3 linked regions of the Homo sapiens genome follow. The protein of the gene in region 2 interacts with the protein of the main gene of each other region in a pairwise test. Each region holds a gene or a part of one and is shown on either strand. Other genes may lie near its edges.

Region 1 (3,754 bases), on a different chromosome or scaffold from region 2:
ATGCTAATTCCAGGGAGAGGGTGTTTTGCCATCTTCATGTTGGCACAAATATTTACAAACTTGCAGACTTCCCTGAGTCCAGATCTCTCACCCCAGCATAACACTTCTGAACTCTCAATCTTACCTGTGAAGGGAGAGTGACAGAACTGATATCAGGACTAAAGCAAGGTCCTCTTCAGAGTTGGGAGTTTGATACCAGCCTGAGGCGAGGTTCTCTTAAGCTACAGGTGTGTAGGCCTGTGCTAGTCTGCATGGGGAATTCCAGAGTCTCATTATTCCTGCCTAATGGCCTCATCCTGAACTGTCCTCAGCTGGAGGTATCCGAGGCTGTGAAGGAGGAAATCCAGTTCAAGAGAGTTGAGAAGACTGTAGAATCCTTCTTTGAATTGGAAAGAGCCACAAAGCACAGGGTGCTTTAGGCCTTCTGCCTGGTCAGTAAGAGTCTGTTCCTCTTATCCAGGGAGAATCAACAGAAAGGGAACTTCTGGAACTGAGAACCAAAGTATCCAAACAGGAGCGACTCCTTCAGAGCACAACTGAGCATCTGAAGAACGCCAACCAGCAGAAGGAGAGCATGGAGCAGTTCATCGTCAGCCAGCGTAGGTTCCCTGAGAGGGAATGGGGGAAGAAACAGGCAGTCTTCCCGATGCCCCACTTGTGCTGCAGATGAGCAGTGACCAGGGGGGCTTGGGGATGTTGGGAGTTGAGACTGATTTGATGTCCCCAAACCTCCTGTACCAGGAGCAATTGTGGCTGCAGAGGGAGGGGAGGACAGGGGGTGGATAGAAGGAGACTCCAAGCTGAATAGCCAGAAAGAAATAAATGCTTTAGAATTCTCATGCTAAGCAAGTAGGGTTAATTTCTGCTGGTGGTTTCTACTCTGTGGTGCTCTTTTGTTGTTTCAGTAACCAGAACACATGATGTTTTAAAGAAGGCAAGGACTAACTTAGAGGTAAGGAAACTACTGCACCAGTCAGAGGCACCAAGCCTGTCCCCCACCCATCACCATCCGTTAGCAGATCTTGTAGGTGACCCTTGGCCTGCTTTGGCCTTCCAGGAGAAGACTTGGGGTCCACTTGCAAGATCACAGGTCCTCAGTGAGCATCCTGCTAGTTTCTGTCCCCATCACCCTCCCACCCCGTCAGCTCCTGCCCCTGTATCTTGGTTCACTCTCACATTGTCATCATCTCTCCTTTTTACTCCAATTTTTCTTCTTTGAGGCCAAGTTCAGAGACTGGAGAAATGCAATTCAGCTGACTCTTGAAGTCATTAGACATTCGGGAGTCTGCCTCTGAATGAGCTTCTAGTAGAGGGATCTTGAGGCCAGTTATGTGTTCTACTCTTCATGAAAAAGTAAAAGCAATTTGCAACCTAATAAACTGATTTCACTGCACATTCCCGGGTTAAGAACAGCAATTTGATTTTGCTATATCTTTAAGTAACATGACAAAAGAGATCTGTTGGGTCTCATTGGTCTAAAAGCGAATTTGTTAATAAATAACAACTGAACCTTCAGGGAAAAAATGTTATATATGTACCAGACATTATCTACATTTACTTAAAACACTAAGTGTTAATCATTCCCTAGGAAGTGCTTTGAAGAAAAACTTGAGGTATATGAAATGGTTAAAAATCAGAAACTAAACCTTTTAACATGGACATCAAAGCTTTGCCATAAGCAATTCAGCATATTCCTAGAAATGTTTCTAATCCATAACCTGAGAGAATGTTGATCTCCATAGTGTGAAAATGACTTGGGCCAGTTTAACTTGCTCTTTTTTTTATTTTTTCACTAATTCCCTTTTGTTTTTCTCTGATAATTCTTCTCTTTCCTGAGCCTCTTTAGAGCAGCACTTACAGGATTGCCTCTGTAAAGCCTTATTCCTGTCCCAGAAAAGGTAATCCAAAAAGTCTCTAGTATCCACTAAAAGGTAACCCAAAAATCTCTAGTATCCACTGGCTTTCTCCAGTGTGGAAGCTTTCCCCTCCACCTCCCATAGATCACTGGAAAGGACCCGAGGCCTCGGTTCTAATCCCTGGCTTATCACTAACTGCTGTGTGGCTTTGGCTTGTCCCTTAGTCTCTGTGAGACTGCTGCACCCTCATCTGTCAAAGATGGAACTGGACTTAGTTGAGCTCTGAGGTCCCTGTGGACTTGGCCCCTCCACACCCTCATTATGGCAACTGGACATAAACTTAACAGAGGGCTTCCCAGCAAAATGTCCTCTTCTTCCTACAAACAGGCTGTTTCTATATGTGCATGTTTCATGCTAAGCACTTCTTTCTTGGGTGGACATGGCAAAGGCCTCTTTCTGCTGAGACAAAGTGATTTGGAGAGTCACCTGGCCCCTGAAGGGGGAGTGGTAGGATCCAGCCACCCAGTGTGCAGTGAATTGGAGCAGGGATCTCAGCACACAGGGAGGTGGGGAGGCTCCCCCTAACCTCGGGCACCTGTTGCTCCTCCAGACTGCAGCGCATGCTCTTAGCTCATCCTCTTAACTGGCTCTCACCGTGCTCCTGGCTTTGGTCACCACGTAGCTCTCACTCCAGCTTCAGGTAGCCATCAGTAGGGCCTGGCAATATACACTGATTTGGTTTGTTTTATGTTTGTCTGCAGGTGAAATCCCTAAGGGCTCTGCCATGTACTCCAGCCTTGTGACCCTTGCCTTCCAGGAACCATGCAAGAAGCGCAGCCACCAGAAGTCCTTAAAACAGCAGGAAAGGTGGGCCTGTCCCCCTTTTGTGCAGCTACCTATCTGCTGAGGAGCATCTGGGCCTCATTCCTCCAAGTCCACGGGAGGGTCCAGAAGAGGGAGTCAGAGATGTATCCTGGTGGAGCTGGGAGAAAGGCAGAAAGCCTTTCTGACGGCTATGGAATACGATTAGCCAAGGTCCACTTGGCCCAGCACTAAGAAAAAGATGCGTAGTTTGCACAGAAGGTTTTGTGATCCTGCCTCTCAACAGCCCCAGCAGCTTGGGAACTAGCAAGAGCACATTTCTTGCCTCATCAGCTGTCCTGAGATGGAAAACTCAGTGAATATAGGACCCTGATTCCGATGAAAGGGGCACGTGGTCCCAATGCTGGAGCTCCTCTGGCAGGTTCTAAAAGCACACTACTGAGCAGCGGTGCCCTGCCGGACACTGCTGGCGGGGGCTCAGTGAGCACTACTCACAGATCCACACCTGACCCTGTTGGGTCGAGTCAGGCTGGGCCTTGGTCTGCACTGTAGCACCTGTGTTCTTTGAGTTCACATCATGAATGTGGTGACTTCCCAGATACCATCTCAGGCTTAACCTAGCACATCCTATTTCTTTTCTTCTATGATATCCAAATTGGACTGACCTCACTTCAAAGTTGCTGTCCCATTTTGTCACCCTATCTTATCTCGGGGAAATTGCAGACTGATGGCCAGACCAACTCTGTTGAAATTCTTGCATAGAGCAAACCTGTGCTCATTTTTAAGTGGCATGGGAGAGGCCCCAAGCCTAGTAAAGCCTAGTCTGTGTCTTCACAGTGCTGGTAGAATGTGTTTGTGTGTATAAATATATGATATAGATTTATATATGTTGCTAACGCCATATATTGAAGGCCAACATAACTGGTGGACAGGGTGGGTGACAGAAAATGAAAGTCTTTTTGGTGATTGTTAAAGCAAAATGTGTATAAAGAAATAAATAGTTTTTCTTTCACTGCTTTGTTTCCCATTTCTGCACCAATCCCTTGACAGTATAAAGAACTGGAAAGAGAAAATGG
Region 2 (3,754 bases):
GCAAGAGGTAGGTTTCATTCAACTGCATTTCCTCATGGTTGGAAAATATGATCACGGTTGATTTTAAGCTCAGCCACTGCAGGGGTTCTTTTGTTCCTCAACTGTCTTTTCCATTTTCCTCACCTAATAAGGTTAAAAATATACAACTCTCTAGGTCGTACTGAGAATTAAGAAAGAGAATGTATATGAAAGTACTTTGTAATGCAGAACCCAAATCTGAAGTGTGGATAAGAGTTTTCCATGATGCCTAAGGTGTTTGGGAGTTTTGTTTTTTCTTTTTCACATTTTTTTTTCCTAACCACTAGACTGTCAGGGGGTGTTTGGGACTTTGTTTCATTTTGTTAAAAGTTTTAACTACAAGTAATCACAGTTTCCAAAAGCATATACCTAATCTGCTCATTAAGTTTAAGGATAATAATTGGACTCCTCTTTTTTTGACTGAAATGTATTTGTAGGATAATTCAGTAAGAAATATTAATTAGTGATGGGAGAAAAACAGATTTCTTAATCTATCCAATTTTAAATGATATACCTGCAAAAGGGGTAACAAATAATCATGTAAGACCCTTTAGAAAGCTATGTAGATGGGTGTTCTTTCTCTGTACATTGTGAGCCCTAGTTCTTTCCTTATCACATCTGGATTTTAGTAAGAGAAAAATACAAGAATGGAATTTTAAAATGTGAAGTAAATTCAACATCATTAACCACCAGGCAAGTGAACATTAAAACCACAATGAAATATCACACCACACCTATCAGAATTGCTGTAATAAAGAATAGTAGCTGGGTGGGCTGGTGTACAACAACAAATGGTGGGGAGGCTGTGGAGAAACCGAATCACTTGTATATTCTGGTGGGAATGTAAGCCAAAATTGTATAGCCGCTCAGAAAAACCGTTTGGCAATTTCTGGGAAAAAAAAAGAAAACATGGGCTGGGTGTGGTGGCCCATGCCTGTAATCTCAGCACTTTGGGAGGCCACGATGGGAAGATTGCTTGAGACCAGGAGTTCAAGACCAGCCTGGTCAACATAATGAGACCCCATCTCTATTCTCTATTTTTTTAATTAAAAAAAATAAAGAAAAAATGAAACATGCATTTATCATACATTCCAGCAATTGTATCCCTGGGCATTTATCCCAGAGAAATGACAGCTTATGCTCACATAAAAACCTGTACACAAATGTTCATAGCAACTTAGTGCATCATAGTTAAAACTGGAAAAAGCTCAGATGACCCTTACGGGCATAAACATAGTATGACATTCTAGTCAGCAAGAACAAGGGATAAACTATCGATACATGCAGCATCTTGGATGAATCTGGATGTAATTATGCTGAGTTACAAAGGTTATTCTGAAAGGTTATACAGTGCATGATTCTATTTATATAATATCTTTGACCTGACAAAATTTTAGAAATGGAAAACAGATGAGTGGTTGCCAGAGATTAGGAACAGAGTTTGGAAGTTGGAGGAGAGGTGGGTGTGGGTATAAAAGGACAACGCAAGGGGTTCTTGTGGTGATGAAAATATTCTGTAAATTGAATAGAATGAAACACACACAAACACAAATAAGCACCAGTAAAATTAGAGAAATCTAAATAAGGTCGGTGGATTGCATCAATGTCAATATACTGGTTATGACATTCTACTATAGTTTTGTAAAATGTTACCACTGGGAAGCTGGGTAGACAGCATACCAGATCTCTTTATTATTTCTTATGGATTTCTTTATTATTTCTTACAACTGCATGTGAATTTACAATTATCTAAATCCTTTTCAATTAAAAAAAGTAAGGTAAAATAAAACTGTAGACCTTGTGTCTACATACATATCTAGAATATCGATCTTTTAGAATAAGGTTTCAGCACAGATGGGAATATTTTCTTTAGGAATACGTTTTGGTAGGGGACCACTGCAACTGCAGCAGATTGGATGGGCTTTGAGGAGAGAAGTAAAATAAGGGTGGTGGAATTTGAAAATCAGTAACATTATCTGAAGCAGCTGCCGTGATTCTGCTGCCCGGCTCTTTGATGCAAATGAAAGGCAAAAGTGAGCAGGTGGCAATTACAGCAATGAGATTCCTGTACCGAGACAGAACCCAAAATGCCACAATAGAGCAAAAGGCATCTATATGTTTATGAAAGAGAAAGTGAAAATGGGGAATAGACATAAACTCTTTCGTGTGTTTTTGATAATAAGCATTCCAGAAGCCAGAAAGCATATAAAGGCCTTGAGGAGCATTAAAAGGCCTTGAGGAGATCCCCTCACATGTTATTTCAAACTGTAACTCACACAGGTGCATACACAGAACTACTTTAAACCCTGGTCCGGGAGGCTTTTACTTATCCTCCCTTTGGTCATGCCAAGCCACCAGCCGGCAAGATTGTTGACAGTGTGTCTATTACATCTAATTTATCTTCTTCTCTCCCATAAAACCTGTCTTGCAGGCCCTTAATCTCACTTGCAACGTGTGGGGAGACCCGCCTCCGGAGGTGTCGTGGTTGAAGAACGAGAAGGCCCTGGCCTCAGACGACCACTGCAACCTCAAGTTCGAGGCTGGGAGGACCGCGTACTTCACCATCAACGGCGTGAGCACCGCTGACTCGGGCAAATACGGGCTGGTTGTGAAGAACAAGTATGGCTCGGAGACCAGCGACTTCACCGTCAGCGTGTTCATCCCAGAGGAGGAGGCGAGGATGGCCGCCTTGGAGTCCCTGAAAGGTGGCAAGAAGGCCAAGTGACCGGAGGTGCGAGGAGAGCCAGCCGGCCTGTGTGACTTGGGTGTGAATGGTTTGGGTTAAGGATGAGACGTCTTCATGCTTTCTCCTCCCTATTATTTTCTGGCTTGAGGGGAAAATAATGTCAGGTCTTTCACTCATATAAAAAAGCACCAACTAATGACACTTTAATTGTTTTTCTTTATCTACAAAATTATGTGTTAAGAAAATACCATTCATAGCATGAAGATTAGGAAACAGTTTTAAGGAGAAGACTTGAATGAAGTTGGAGGGACATTGAATGATGGTCAGAGGGCAGACGAATGTGTCGTGGGGCGAATTGGGATTTGCTGCAGCTGTGAAGCCATGGCCGTGTCTCGTGTGTTGTTACAGAGGTGATGTGCTTTTCGACGGGCGCCTCGTGGCTTGGAACCTCCTCTGTATGAATAAACAGTTTTCACGTCTGTCCTCTTCCCCGACACTGTTTCTCAAATTCCTGCTGTTTTGCTGCTAGGTTGGGTGGCTTCTTGGTGCTTCTTTCTCAACGCGTCTTGTGCCACATCTTCTGATTTAAATTCCTTTTGGTGAAAGCAGTACCTTGCAACATGATCAGATAAGTCGTTTGAGCTCAACGAGGTTCAGGGGTGTGAAATTACACGGCCACTGCACATCTGGTGGCTTACCACACAATCAAGCCAATTCCATTAATAAGATACACAAGGCAATTGAATGTAATGTGACAATTACATGTGATAAGATGGTGTGAGGCGCCTCCTGCCAGAACTGGAGACTAAGGGCCCACAGCTAAGAATAAAAGGTACATAAGAAGCCTCATTCTGAGCTCAGAGAACTGCCAGCTGTGGAAATTGCCACTCCCTGAGGGGTTTGCTGAGGGTCAGCATCCCAGCAGCAGCTGTTGTAGAAAGTTTTGTCCTCCCCAACCCCAGCACCACACACACACACACACACACACACACACACACACACACACATAACACACACCATTCTAGGAAAATCGTCATGGTGTTTTTTTCT
Region 3 (3,654 bases), on a different chromosome or scaffold from region 2:
ACCTTAGAATTCACAGGAGGTATTTGTCCTTCACGCGAGTGTAGACCAAACGTAACCTATGAGTTTCTTTTATTCCACTTATTAAAGCAGCAACCAAAGGTATTATATACCTTCTGTATTCACTTAAAATGACTGATTTTGAAAAAGTCATGCAAACATCCATTTACAGATAAGCCTCATTAACTCAAAGGCAGTGGCCCTGTTGGGCTCTGATGATTACTCAAACCATTTCTGACACTCTGACACTACATCCGGAAATCATCCGGAAATGCATTCAGAGCCTGCAAAAGCTTTTTTTTTTTTTTTTTTTTTTTTTGAATAGCTACAGCACTTGCAGATCTTCCTCCTTTGAGAGAATATTTGATTTTAGGAAATAAGCAAATGTAGATAAGTATGATTCAACTGGGCAATAACTTTTAGGCAAAGAGAAAAAAACAAAATATAGCAATGTAGTAATAAGGCTGATATTATAGTGCTTTTATGATGAGTCTGAAAACAGTCTCCAACATTTGTAAATGTTTTAAATCGGGTCTGTCTACTACAGTAGCCCTTAAGCCATATGTAGCTATTGAGCACTTGACATGTTGCAAGAGTGAATTGGAGACTGATTTTAATTTTATTTAATTTTAATGTAAGTAGTCGCACATGACCCGTGGCTACTATGGTAGATGGCATAGTTTTAGACAAGGGCAGTAGTCTTGGGTAGATACTTGATTTACTTAGAACATTTCTTTACCTAGCTGTAACAAGGTTCTAATAGCTGATTAAAGGACAACATTTTTAGCATGTAATATACAGTAAGGAACTAATGTTAATTACTGCCAAGATGTATAAACATTATGAAACCTTAAACAAGGATGAACACAGAAGCAGTGGCCCTTCTTTGTAAATAAGGGGTCAGTTACTTCCTAATAGGTGTCTTAGTTTTAGTTAATAATCTAATAGCACCCCCAAAAAGCAAACTGTTAATTTGTTATTAGCCATCCTGTAAAGACAAGGGAGAAATCGGGGCCAGGAGAGTCCTCTTTCCCATTCTCCATAATTTTTACGACCTATAGAAATAAGAGCCTAAGAGTGACCAGTTCCTGCAACCTAACTCAAAATTAGGCCTCTCTGTTGAAGTAATAGTGAGGCAAACAATCCCTTGAAGCACTGGGGCATGCACCCTTATGAAATCTAATAATTCTAAAATATCATTGGCAGTATTAAGCTAGAGTTCTCAAAATATGCTGTAGAAAATATTGGTCATTTAAATATAGCTGAGTAAAAATAAGCAAGATCAAAATGATAAGAAAATGTTGATTTCTCCCCTTTTGAACCAGTAACTAACTATAAGGGTATATACCCATGCTTAACTTAAAAATAATTATTTAGCCACCTTGGGTATAGCACAACATATGGATGCCATTATAGTCCACCTTGATCTTACAAGGAAGCTTTCTTTTAGCGTAGCTTTACTTTTATTTAAGCATTATTGAAGAAGCTTGGTATCTCTGTTTAAGTTGCTTCTGTATCAGTGTTTTCCAGGGCCCTGTCTCAGCTTCCATAGTTTTTCTTAAGAGCAGCTAATTAATGCTTCACTCCATATGCTTTAATTTGATATTTTGGGAAGTTTCATTTTTTAAAATAATCTTTTTATATCATAGGCCTTTGAAGACATATTTGTTTACAAAGACATCTGCATTGAACCATTTGTTTTTAAAAACATGTATCGGGCATGTTCTATATACCAGAAACTATGCCATTTACTGAGGACACCGAAGTTAGAGAATGGTCTTAATCCGAACTAGTTATTGTCTCACTATCCAATATGGATATCAAACATTCAGCGTCATGAGGATTTACTACTGTGTTTTCTCCCAAGAGTTTTATAATTTTAGCTCTTATATTTAGGTCTTTGATGCATATTCATTGATTTTTTTTTGTATGCAGTATGAGGTAAAGGTTGAAACGTATTCTTTTTGCATGTGGGTGTCCACTTGTCCCAGCTTCATTTTTTGAAAACACTATACTTTCCCCATTGAATTGTCTTGGCTTCTTTGTTGACAAAGGATTTATTATTTCTGCCACAACCCAGCTGTTTCTCACTGTCTAAACCTTTATGCCTGCTGCCCCGTAGGCTTAGTGGAATGCCTCTCCATCCTCCACTCTCTTTTGTTTAGCTAGTACTTCCTTATCCTTTAAGGGGTCAGTAGGAACCTCACCTTCTTCAGTATGTTTTCCTTTGTCTTATCAACCTACCACCATCACCCACACACATACCTTTTCCCTAAGGCTGGGATAGGAACCTCTTAGGCAATGATCTATTTGATAAGTACTCACTGAGTTCATACTAGACACTCTGCAGTATATCCGTAAATGAAGTAAAACCTGACACCACCCTCAGAAAACTTACTGTTAGTGAGAAAATGGGCTATAATAATAGAGTGGGGTAAGTTTATTGTAGGGATAAGCATAGGATGCTATGAGAATGCAGAGGACAGGAATTTAACCTAGACTTCTCAGTTCTCCCGTTGAAGTTGACATCTGAACTGAAATCTGGAAGACCAGTAAGAGATAGCTATGTAAAAAGAGGGGAAGGACAATAGGAAAGAAGGAATGGAGAGAGGCCCAGAAACTACAGAGTATGGCACAAGTAGTTTAGCATTGTTGGGTCACAAATTCTAAGGATATGAAAGATAAAGTTGAAGAAGTGGTGGGGCTGGGGAGGACAGCTCCTGTAGAGCCTTTTACAGCGGGAGAAGGAGTTTGGCTATGGTCCTGCAGGCAGGGAGAAACCACTGAAGGGGAGAAACATACAGAATAAATTTGAGTAAGAAGCTTAAATCTCCCCAAGCCCTTTTAAAATAAATTAAGATATAAAGCCTTTGGGTTTCTTTATGCTTTGTCCTATTCTTCTAATTGTCCAAAACAAAACAAAAACCTTCCTTTTCTGTACCTATTAAAAGGTTAATTTTATAAAGTTACAGACAGCATGCTGATTAAAGAATTCTTGATAATTAGCTATTTTGTCTGTCTTTGTGTAGATTACTAACAATTGTGTCATCAGATTTAAAAGATCTAAACCTCTGGACTTTATATATTTTTTCTACAAGTACTGTGAGATTGAGAACTTAATTCAACTCTAGTAACTGGACTTTTTAGTGTTGTTTGCAGCATATGATTGTTAAAGAAAGTTTAGTATATTTGTGTGTGCGTATATATATATATATAGATAGATAGATAGATTTGAGGTTATATTTAATCATTGACTATTGGTATTCTAAGATTTTAAGGAGAGAAAGGTAGGTTACAATATATGGCTGATATATGGTTCTGGAACAATTTTCTTAGTTTTCAGTAATTCTACCTAAAATGTACGTCCAGCTTTGCACTCACTACCACATTGTAATTTCCAGTATACTTGTCTATTTTTCGAGATGTTGAAATCTGTGGAGAATTTTTTCTCATGTTTAGTGTTTTAGCTATGTTTATCTCTAGGGTATAGCACATACAAGGTGGCAATATAGATGTGCTTAATGAATAAAATGATCTTCAAAAACTGACCTTCATTTGAAGTTCTATTTTATTCATAAACACATAAAACGTTTGGTATCACTGTAAAATTTAACTAAAAACAAAAACTATCTTTAAGCTCACAAGTTAATTTAACGT

What was found.
Region 1: the proteins of MYOM1 (region 2) and PDE4DIP interact in binary tests that used the Homo sapiens proteins (3 or more experiments, as listed by UniProt).
Region 3: the proteins of MYOM1 (region 2) and FMR1 interact in a two-hybrid assay, tested with the Homo sapiens proteins (one large-scale study listed by IntAct).

Annotation. Positions count from the first base shown.
Region 1 is NC_000001.11:149,029,327-149,033,080, forward strand, and holds the end of PDE4DIP (myomegalin), read left to right. Parts: intron 1-460; coding exon 461-599; intron 600-905; coding exon 906-952; intron 953-1,846; coding exon of another isoform or gene 1,847-1,898; intron 1,899-2,617; coding exon 2,618-2,659; coding exon of another isoform or gene 2,660-2,763; 3' UTR 2,764-3,690; downstream 3,691-3,754. UniProt on the Homo sapiens protein: Functions as an anchor sequestering components of the cAMP-dependent pathway to Golgi and/or centrosomes.
Region 2 is NC_000018.10:3,066,251-3,070,004, reverse strand, and holds the end of MYOM1 (myomesin-1), read left to right. Parts: intron 1-2,449; coding exon 2,450-2,743; 3' UTR 2,744-3,198; downstream 3,199-3,754. UniProt on the Homo sapiens protein: Major component of the vertebrate myofibrillar M band. Binds myosin, titin, and light meromyosin. This binding is dose dependent.
Region 3 is NC_000023.11:147,918,265-147,921,918, forward strand, and holds part of FMR1 (fragile X messenger ribonucleoprotein 1), read left to right. Parts: intron 1-3,654.